Regions from separate parts of the Homo sapiens genome. Here region 2 is linked to region 1. Evidence: fine-mapped expression QTL. A gene starts in region 1. The other region holds a variant in brackets. All regions are shown on one strand. Distances are between the middles of the regions. Region 1 holds the start of VPS37B (VPS37B subunit of ESCRT-I). Region 2 overlaps VPS37B (VPS37B subunit of ESCRT-I).

Evidence for each region. PIP is the estimated chance that this variant, and not a neighbour inherited with it, causes the effect.
Region 2: its variant is the best candidate, but not a certain one, in a credible set for the expression of VPS37B in blood mononuclear cells (TOPMed, PIP 0.85).

What each region holds. Positions count from the first base shown.
Region 1 is chr12:122,893,130-122,898,593 of GRCh38, reverse strand. It overlaps VPS37B (VPS37B subunit of ESCRT-I), which reads left to right and starts at 2,470. Exons shown (of 4, transcript NM_024667.3): 1 at 2,470-2,642. The coding sequence starts at 2,532. RefSeq lists a silencer at 2,327-2,476 and an enhancer at 2,657-2,806.
Region 2 is chr12:122,867,664-122,872,663 of GRCh38, reverse strand. VPS37B (VPS37B subunit of ESCRT-I) reads left to right here. Exons shown (of 4, transcript NM_024667.3): 2 at 1,603-1,774; 3 at 4,102-4,184. Among named protein-coding and RNA genes, the nearest start is that of VPS37B, 26 kb to the left of the region's middle. RefSeq lists enhancers at 1-460, 262-551, 461-968. The variant G/C (reference allele first, on the strand shown) is at 2,666.

The DNA.
Region 1 (5,464 bases):
GCCGTGTTTAAACTTAGTACGTTTAGAGGTCACTGTATATAGGTATGCCATTCTGAAGCCAGTTTTGTTCCTGGGGTATGTTCTTGGTTAAATCACATCATCCCTCTAGATTCTGGAGAGCTCTGACCCCTACCTTATTCTCACCTTCTGTGGGGACTATGAGAAATTCCTGGACATCTTAAGCCTCATAGAGAGGATTTCCTGGAAATAGAGCTACTATTCTCAATTTGACAGGTCTATTCTTCTCCTGGAGGGAGAAGGAAAAAAGAAACGCCAGCTTCCTACATCTCCTTCCCACTTGTGTCCTTTCCTCCTTAGAGCCATCTTTCTTCACCAAGTATAACAAGTTAGAAGGAAGAAAATTACCGAGTGTCCTTTTGAGCTCAATAAAACCTTTAGCTTGGCCGGGTACGGTGGCTCATGCCTGTAATCCCAGCACTTTGGGAGGCCAAGGTGGGCGGATCACGAGGTCAGAAGATCAAGACCATCCTGGCTAACACGGTGAAACCCCGTCACTACTAAAAATACAAAAAATTAGCTGGGTGGGGTGGCGAGTGCCTGTAGTCCCAGCTACTCGGGAGGCTGAGGCAGGAGAATAGCGTGAACCTGGGAGGCAGAGCTTGCAGTGAGCTGAGATTACACCACTGCACTCCAGCCTGGGCGACAGAGCAAGGTTCCGTCTCAAAAAAAAAAAAAAACAAAACAAAACAAACAAAAAAAAACCTTTAGCTTACGGATTATATGAAACATTTCTTTTGGCCGGGCGGGGTGGCTCAGGTCTGCAATCCCAGCACTTTGGGAGGCTGAGGTGGGCGGATCACTTGAGGTCAGGAGTTCGAGACCAACCTGGCCAACATGGTGAAACCCCATTTCGACTAAAAACACAAAAATTAGCTTGGCGTGATGGCGCATGCCTGTAGTCCCAGCTACTTGGAAGGCTGAGGCAGGAGAATCGCTTGAACCCAGGAGGCGGAGATTGAGGTGAGCTGAGATCGCACCACTGCACTCCAGCCTGGACGACAGAGCAAGACTCTGTCTCAAAAAATAAAAAAAGCAATAGTTCCTCTAACTTTCATCATTTTTCTGCAAACACGAGCCCTTAGTACAACGGGCTGGAAGGAGAGAAGAGGTTGGCAGAGCCCAGCCTAACGTATGGATGGAGAACACAGACCTTATGTTTTACCCATGGAGTTGCAGAAGAATCAGCTTTATACACAAAGCCCCTAAGTCTGCCGATAAGCATTTGCTGAATGCCTCGACTGTGTTCAGAGCTGAGTTATGAGACGAGGTCAGTGTGTTATGATGCCAGCGTGGTGGACGCCAGACTGGGAGCCAGGAGACCTGCCAATTACTTGATTTTCAGAAACAAAGCAAAAGCCCAAAAAATTTCCCCTTCTCAGGGCTTCAGTTCCCTTATGTGTAAAATTAGGGGGCTGTCATGGTTAACCTCAGCCTTAGGTTTCTTCTAACTAGAACTGTGACAGATTCCAAAGTAGGATAATGAGTTCCCAGGCTCCTGGATCTTAAGAGGCTTCCCGGTAGCTGAGAGACTGAGAGCGACTGCACCCTAAATCGTGTTGTTTCTGAAAGAGCACAGGTTGGCCCACCTGGATGTCTGGGCACCTTCCTCTGAGGTGATGCAAAGGGGCCACTCAATGGGTCCTTGCTCAAAATGCTCCAGCCTTACTGGCCTTCTTCCCATTCCTGAATGCACCAAGTTAGTCCTGTCCCAGGGCCTTTGCACGTGCTGGTTTTGCTGCCTTGAGCTTCCTACAGGAATGGTGGCTGGTTCCTCCCTTCTCATCCTTCACATTTCCTTAGACGCCACCTTCTCCGAAAGTGCCATCTCTTACTACCCTAAAGGTCTTTTTATTTTCTTATTTCAGTGTCCATTCCCTTATTTGTGATCGCCTAATTATTTTACTTATTTCTTGTTTTGTTTGCGTCCTCTTTCATTCTGTTAGCTCCATGTAAGCAGGGGTCCGTTTTGCTTTATTCAGAACTGTATACTCAATGCCCAGTACAGAGTAGGTCTCAAAACATATTTGTTAAATGAATGACGTGGCAGCTCCACAATTCCAAGTAACCAATGACACCTAAAGTTGTTTCCCCATGAAGTCTCTGTCTTTTGGGTTCCGTGCATCGGGCTGGGCTCACAGGCTGCGGGAACTTCCTTCCCACTGCCTGTTTTCCTTGGATCGCGGTATCTCTCTTCCTGGAGGAAAAAGGCTCTTATGACCTCATGGCGCGCTCTCCCGAGCCGCAGTGACGTCATTAATGCGCTCACGCGTCACAGCCCAATCATAGGGCCCTTCCCCTCCCTTTAGAAGTCCCGACTGTCCCTGACACATTCCACTCCAAGCGAGCCGCGACACTTACGTCACGTCCGCCCGCCCGCGCGGTGATGACGTCACGACCCAGGGCTGGCGTCACGTGTCCCCCCCGCGGGGGGCGGCCCTTGAGGGCGGCGCTTCCGGTCGGCGGAGCCTGGTGGCCGCAGCGGCGGTGGCGACGACGGCCGAGACGTGGGGATGGCGGGCGCCGGGAGCGAAGCCCGGTTCGCCGGGCTGTCGCTGGTGCAGCTCAACGAGCTGCTGGAGGACGAGGGCCAGCTGACGGAGATGGTGCAGAAGATGGAGGAGGTGAGCCGAGCTGGGCTTAAGGCGGCGGCTGTGAGGCCTCGAGCGGGGTTCGCTCCTCGAACGGTGGCCGGAGGCGGAGGCGACCGCGGCGCCTCCGGTCGTGTTGAGGGGACTGGGCTAGAAATGGGGGCGCTTGGGGCGGGGTGCGGGAGCCAGGGAACCGCGACTGGTGCTTAGGCAGGAATAGGGGGCCTGAGAGGGGGTTTGAGGCACTGAGGGGACCGAGACTAGGGCGGAGGCGGGAAAAAGGGTCCTGAGACGGGGCTTGGGGAGCCGATTGGGGGTCCTGAGACAAGGTTTTGTGGGGCTGAGGACTTAAGGCTGGGTCTGAAGACTTAAGGCTGGGTCTGAAGTGGAGATTAGGGAGCCTGGAATGGGAATTTGGGGATTAGAGTGCTATCGTTGGGTCTAGGCGGAAGAGGACGGAACTGGGGGGATCTGAGATTGGTTTGGTCGGAGGAGCGGGGAGAGTAATAAGGGCTGAGTCGGAGGCGAGGATTAGGGGTGACTGAGGGGGACCAAGAGCTAGATCTGGTAGAGGTTGGGGGGTTTCCTTTGAGAGGAAAGGTTGGGGACAACCAGGGGGACTGAGGCAGCTATAGGGGATCAGAGTAGGTTTTGGGGGACTGAGTGGACTATCCAAATAGGACTCTTAGGAGAGGATTGAGGGTTCCAAGATGGGTTCGGGAGGCTGAGGGTCTGTAGCTGAGTCTATGAGGTGGTTCTGAGGCTCTTTAAGGGTTGGGCGAGGGTCCCCAGCCCAGGGTTTGGAGGCAGGAGTCCATGGTCATACCATAGCCAGGGTAAGGTTTGAAGGTTCCATGTATCTAAGGGGTCCCAATAATGCCCCTGGAGTCTGACTTCTTTTGAAGTGGCCCCAGCAGAGTTACGGGAGTTCGTGGATGGGCCTAAGGGTGGCGACAGGATACGTTTTTCTGTAAGGGTTGCCCCCTCCACCGAGGAAGGGAAGGTGGGAAATTTAGTGTGGCTGGCTTTGTACCACTGCGTCCCACGTGTCTGGGACTAAGGAAGGTTCCTGGAGCAGTTTCAGGAAGAAGTTAAAATGGGGGTTTGGGGCTGGCTGCCAACCCTCACCTCTGAGAGTCAAGCCTTGCCCAGCCCCTGGAAGGCATGTGCCAGCTCCTGTTTCTGGTTATCTTCCTTCACACCTTGAGGTGTGGTTTGCTCTCGGGTAACTGACTTCATCCTTGCAGATTTGCAGTGTGTGCTCCCTTTCTCTCAACCCATTTGGACTCATTCTCGGAAAGTCTGATCTTTTGGGTCTGGTTCTCCTCCAGGCAGGTGGGCCCAGGCTAATCCCAGCTCTTCCTGGCCCACCTACCACTCCTTTATGTCTCTGAAGTCTGAGCCTTCCCACGCCTACAGTGCTGAGCCTCTCACCCAGGAGCCCGTGTGGGGGCTTTTGGCTTTCTTTCCGAAGAGGGATTGTTCAGCACCAAGCCAGCCCCCTTAAAAGAGAGCTTGTATGGAGGTTGCACATTCAAAATCCCTGGAAAACCCTCAACAGATCATTGTCCGGAGCTACAGAGAGGCCACTGTAGTAAGATGGTATCAGTCTTTCCATTAATACACCCCTTGTATTCATGGGCTTTGTAACTTGACACATAATAACGTTGCTCCAAGATGCAGTGTACCCCGTTTATGGTCTCCATGTGGCACCTTCCATTTTGGAGAATAATAAGTGATAAAATCCATCCTTCTTAGCTGAATGAGTTTCATGTCTCCAAAGAAAAAATCTTTGCTTAGTTTCTCTGCTTTTCAGTTGCTGGGAGACCTTTTGTTGATTGTCAGCAGGGTTTTTCTGGTTTAATAATAAAATGATAGGTATATTTTTCTAATGTGTAACACTGCCTACAAGTTATTTTGGTATATGTGACTATTCTGTTGCAGTAAGAACTGAGTACTGTAGCTTTGTTGGTGGAACATTAATAGAAATAAACTGCCTTTAGTGGAGGGAAGCTTGTGGAAAGAATCAAGTTCATTCTGTTCACTTGGAGGCTGTTAGGGACAACCTCACCTGTTTCCTCTACCTCAGAACCTGAAGATTATTTTTTAAAGAGAAAGGTAAATTCATCTGGCAGGATTTTTTTTTTTTTTTTTTTTTTTTGAGTAAAAGTGACCTTCATACCTGAATACCCAAGAGAAGTATTGAGGCCTGAGCGACTCCACTTGATAAGCCTGCATAGTTCACATTAAATTACTCAGCAGTAGTTTGCTTTTCTGGGTGTAGTGCTTTTAAAACAAGGAAACAACTTGAAAACCAAAATACCTTAGCTCACCTAGCGAGGATCACTGTCAATCCTGTCGTCCTGGTCATGTGTGGTGTGCCTTTCTCGGAATGGGTGTAATGTGAACCGAAATTTTTGGTCATGGTAGTTTCACTCATCTGGTAATGCTATGCATTGGCTTATGTTGGGGGTAATTGTGAGACACAATAGAAGAAAATATTTTATGAACTGTTGACCAAATGGAACATTTGTGATGGCGTGTTAAAGAACATTCTGGTTTTGGAATCACACACTCCAGACTGGACTTGGCCGCTTCCCAGCTGTGTGATTGCAGGCAAGTCACTTCACCTGCCTGAGTATCTGTTGGAAAAGGATAATATGACAGTAATACCTATTTCATAGAGTGAGGATCAGGTGAGATGATGCCTATTAGTACTTAACACAGCCCATCAGTAGGGCTCAATAAAAAGTAATTGCAATAATTAATCACTTATATTAATAGTTCTCTTTTTGAAAGATGACTGACAATCATTAATACCAGATCATCCTGAAAGTTACTAGGATCCCATTTCA
Region 2 (5,000 bases), 26 kb after region 1:
ACAATGGAAGGAAAGACGCTTCTGCATGGCCTGGCATAGAAAGCCCATGGAGAGCCGCCCTGTGGGTGGGGAAGCGGGTGACGGGAGCCCCACTGCTTACCAGAAACCCGAGTGAAACTGCGTCTTTCCAGTCCCAAGATTCTCCTTTTTTGCTAAAGGCATCAGAAGAGATGAAAGCATTTCTACCACCCACATTTCGAGGACACTCCTAGCTTTTACTTTAGAGTTGGGAGAGAGGTTTGGTTTTCATTGTCATTTAAATCCTGTTGGGTTTCAGCAGAGCCTGATCTTTAGGGCCCTGGGTGCAGCTGTTGTCTGGAGATGCAGATCACTGTCTGCTGAAAAGAGCCCTCCTGCTGGGGTTAGGGATCTCCTGATTGAGGCATGGATCCAAGGGCTTCTTTCTTTGTTCTCTGATTCCCTGAGGCTCTTCCTTGTGTGTGTGGTGCGTGTGCACTCGTGTGAGCGCACCAGGAACTATGACAGCAATCAACGGGTATGACTGGGGGTGGGGAGCAGAGGCAGCATGGCCAGGAATCTATACTCGAGCTACTAAGAGGAAGGAAGTCGCAGCAAAAATAGCCTGGGTGGGGTGGTAGAAAATATTAAGGGGAAAATGAGATGACTGGGGTGGCGTTGAAGAAGAGCTGCTTAAAGAGAAACAGGGACACACGCTGGGTAAGGAATCGCATGCTGTTGAAACTGACGGTGTGGAAGGAAAGTGAGGTGGCGGCGGCTGGGCTGTGGTAGAGGAAGCCGATCACCAGTGAGTGAAAAGGGAACTAGGGTACCCACGCGTTTGTGTTTTTTATTTAAACTTTGGCTAAGTTTTGCTAGGAGCGTTTTGCCTTTTTTTCTCAGACCTTCTACTCCTGTCGTTCTCCCCTAAGTTCTGGGCATGTGGCTTCTTCTCTACCTACCAGGGTAGCCTGTCATTGCTTTAAAGGACAAAATGAAATCCCTGATGGGCAAAATATGTCCCCCCTCTTCCCCCAGCTTTTGGTCGGCTTTGCTCACCCACCAACAGCTAGGAGCTGGAAGGCTCAGAAGAGCTGGGGTGGGCATGGGAGAGACAGAGGAACCCCGGTGGCTGGAAACACAGTTCCTTCCCAGGGTCTCTTCAGCTTGCTGGTTGGACCTCTTAGCCTGCTTATGAAGCCTGAATTGACATCATGCCAACTGGTCTCCTGCTGATAAGTGATTCCTTAACTTCCTCGGGAGCAGCAGAAACTTGTTTTGAAAAAAATCAGATTCTAAATCTTTACAGCTGTTTACTTCTGCAAGCACAATGGCCGTAGTAAGGAATTCAAGTCACAGCGCAGCCGTGGCAGGGAAGGCTCTGCATGGAGTCACAGGACAAAGCCTGTCCTGGAAACGTGCTGGAAGGAAGTCGGCCTCATTCTTTACGACGGGCAGCAGCTCCAAATGAGAAACCAAGGGGCTTGGCTCTGGGTCAGTAGCATCTGCCTGGCATGCGGTGCCAGCTGTGGAGACCAGTGAGGTGGCAGCAGCTGCACTGGGCTCCTGGGGTGTGCGTGGGGACCTCAGGGGTTTAGGAGCTGATATACTTTTGGTTCTCATCATCTTGTGTGTTCCTTGCAGACACAGAATGTTCAGCTTAACAAAGAAATGACACTTGCCAGCAACCGGAGCCTGGCAGAAGGAAACCTTTTGTACCAGCCCCAGCTGGACACGTTGAAAGCACGCTTGACCCAGAAATACCAGGAACTCCAGGTTCTCTTTGAAGCCTATCAGATAAAGAAGACCAAATTAGGTAACTTTTTAAGGGTGATCATTCGAGAATAAAGAGTTGAGAGAAGGACACATTTTCAAGCTATTGCCCTACCAGGAAAGAAATATTACGGAAAAATTTCAGGTTAAGATAGCGACTCTACTGCAATGAACAAATAGCTTATGTATATTATTTATTTATTTTTAGAGACAGGGTCTTGCTCTGTCAGACTGGAGTGCAGTGGCGCAACCATGGCTCAGCACGACCTCCTGGGCTCAGGTGATCCTCCTGTCTCAGCCTCCTGAGTAGCTGGGACCACAGGTGTGCACTACCCCAAGCAGGCTAGTTTTTCATTTTTTTGCAGAGAGGTTGTCTTGCTATGTTGCCCAGGCTGGTCTTGAACTCAAGCCATCCTCCTGCCTTTGCCTCACAAAGTGCTGCTATTACAGACATGAGCCACTGTATTGGACTAGTTTATGTATGGAATATGGAGGGCCCCCAGACCTGCGGCCTCTCTGCACTTGCGGTTCGAGAGGGCAGGGTGTATAGCAGGACTGCCCCCTCCTCCCAGTGGCCCTGACTGGTGGCGGTGACTGCTGAGGTCAGCCCAGGTCCACACGCACCTCCAGGGTCTGCAGTGTGAAGCAGGTTGCAGAAACGTGGGTACCTCGGGGCAGTTACCAGAAAAGGGGCTGGAGATTAGGAGGAAGCCAGCCAGTTTAGCAGTCACCAGTTTAGAAGAGGAGACTTAACCACTTTTTAAATTCAAGACCCCACCTTCTCTAAACAGCATAGAAAAAGCTTTCTGAATTATGATATTAAACAGATGTCTTATGACGTTTGCCCGTTTGTCTTATGCTGTTTGTTAATGGTAAAAAAAAAAAAAAAAAAAGCATCACTGAAACACTTTATTTTAATGGCATACTTTAATTT[G/C]CAGCCATTAGGAGGAGACATCAGAATTAAAGATTGTTGAGCATCCTAAGTGCTTTTGATAGTTATCAAAGGGACATTTAGATAAAGTCAGAGCTGGGGGTGGTGGCACACGCCTATGGTCCTAGCTACTTGGGAGGCTAAGGAAGGAGGATTGCTTGAGCCTTGGAGATTGAAGCTGCAGTGAGCCATGATTGCAGCCCTGTACTCCAGCCTGGGCGACAGAGCGAGACTGTGTCTCTACAAAAGAAGTGAAATAAGCTGGGGGTGGTGGTGCTCGCCTATAGTCCCACCTACTCTGAAGGCTGAGGCCACAGTGAACTGTGATTGCATTACTGTACTCCACCCTGGGTGACAGAGACCCCATCCCTTTAAAGAGTTTGGGTTAAAGATCACCTTCTGCAGTGAGGTTTACAGTGATGTCTGTCACTACTTGCTATCATCTTGTCATTTTCTCCATTAACTTCAGTAAAAATTTACGATCATACACCCAAACCAGAATGACGAAAAGTAAAAAGACTGGCAGTACCAAGTGCTGTGAGGTGCCGTGCATCTTGCTGGTAGGAGTGTCCATGGGTCATCTGGGGCTTGCAGGCTGCACTGCCACAGCCACCTCCTTTTCTCATTTCACCTGGGGAAGGCTGTTGGGTAGCACCTGCTAGAATGAAGAGTGTGTATGCGCTGCACAGCAGCTCTGCTCCTGGGTGTATACCCAACAGAAGTGGATATTAATGTCTCTCAGAAGATAGGTACAAGAATGTTGTATCTTTATTACCTTATAATAAAATTTGGAAACAATAAAAATGTCCGTCTACAGAGTGATGGGCACATAAAGTCTGTTTACACAATGGAACACTACACAGCATTGGAAAGAAACGAACTGATTCACAGACCTGAGCAGGGTCTCAGAGACGCGGTGCTGAGTGCAAGAAGCCAGGAGAGTATGACCTGTACTCTCTGATTCCAGGATGTGGAGTCAAGACCAGGCGGACCTCCTCTGTGGTGGTGGAGGCCAGCGTAGGGGTTATCTGGCGGGTGCAGTGGGCGTGAGGGCGCCCGGTGGAAAGGTTCTGTGTCTGGATCTGGGGGGTGGTGGTTGGCGGTTAAACACGTGGAAATTTGACTTACACACTTGAGATGTGTATACTCGATGTAAGTTACCACTCAAAACATAAAGGAAATACAAAGTGGCATGATGAGAATGTCACTGCCCCATATTTGAAAACAGCTGGTTCTAGAAGCAGCTGGTGACACAGGTTGCTCTGACATGGGATGTTGGCCCCTGGGCACTGGCTTGGTGCACTTGTTCCCCTGTAGGTTTTCAAGCCTTTCACATTCAGCTTCCTGGAAAGGAAGGTGCAATCCTGCCGTGGTTGGCATCATGAAGGGCTTTACCTGGACACCTCTCACTTTTGTCATACCTCTTGCTTTTTTTCCAGACAGACAGTCTAGCAGTGCTTCCTTGGAGACCCTGTTAGCACTTCTTCAGGCAGAAGGGGCCAAGATTGAGGAAGACACTGAGGTAAAGCCCACCAGCCTTGGTGGAATCCTTGGGGCGCTTTGGGCAGTCCGTGGGCCCGCTGCCTCCAGGGACCGTGAGTGCCACACCGCCACGGCCAGGAGTGGTGCCTCCCAGGTGTACGGGCTGTATACCAGCAGGCAGCCTGGCCTGTGTGCTGGGGAAAGTGCCAGGCAGGGGTCCAGGGAGCAGCGGGGTGAGTGAGGGCAGGTCCGAGCGAGGGCCAAGAGAGGGCATGCGTGCCACCCTGTGAACGCCGGCCCCTGGGGCCAGTGGCGGATTACCACGTGCCGTCGTTCAAGGGCCAGCTGGGAGGAGGCTACAGAGCTTCTGGGACACGTCCAGCTGCGCATTAGAGCCTTGAGCCTCGCCAGGCGATAAGGAAATGAGTCAAGGTCGAATGTTGTGCAGTTGTTGCAGGCTGGGGCCGGCAGGGTCTTGCCAAGATAGGGCTGGGCTCGATGAACTCTGAAGCCCTGGGGGCACAGGTGTTTCTGTCTTGCTTACCCACCCAGGGCGAGTCTGTCAGTCAGGGTGCAGCCGGGTGGAAGCAAGGAGGTGTTGGACTCCAGCGGGCTCGAGAGAGGCCTGGGACCCAGGAGTCGGAGCCCTCACCCAAAGGCCAGCTCCTCTGCCTGTCACGCTGGTGGTGGGGTGCGCAGCAGGGCTGTCGTCCTCTCCACCTAGTGGCAGCTCATGCTGAAGCCTGAGCCCATGACCTCTGGGATCTGGAGCAGGAGCGAGGCCCTCTGGGTGGTTACAGGGAGGGGGCAGTGTTGGAAGCAGCTGGGCGTTGCCTCTCCTTGTGCCTAGACCACG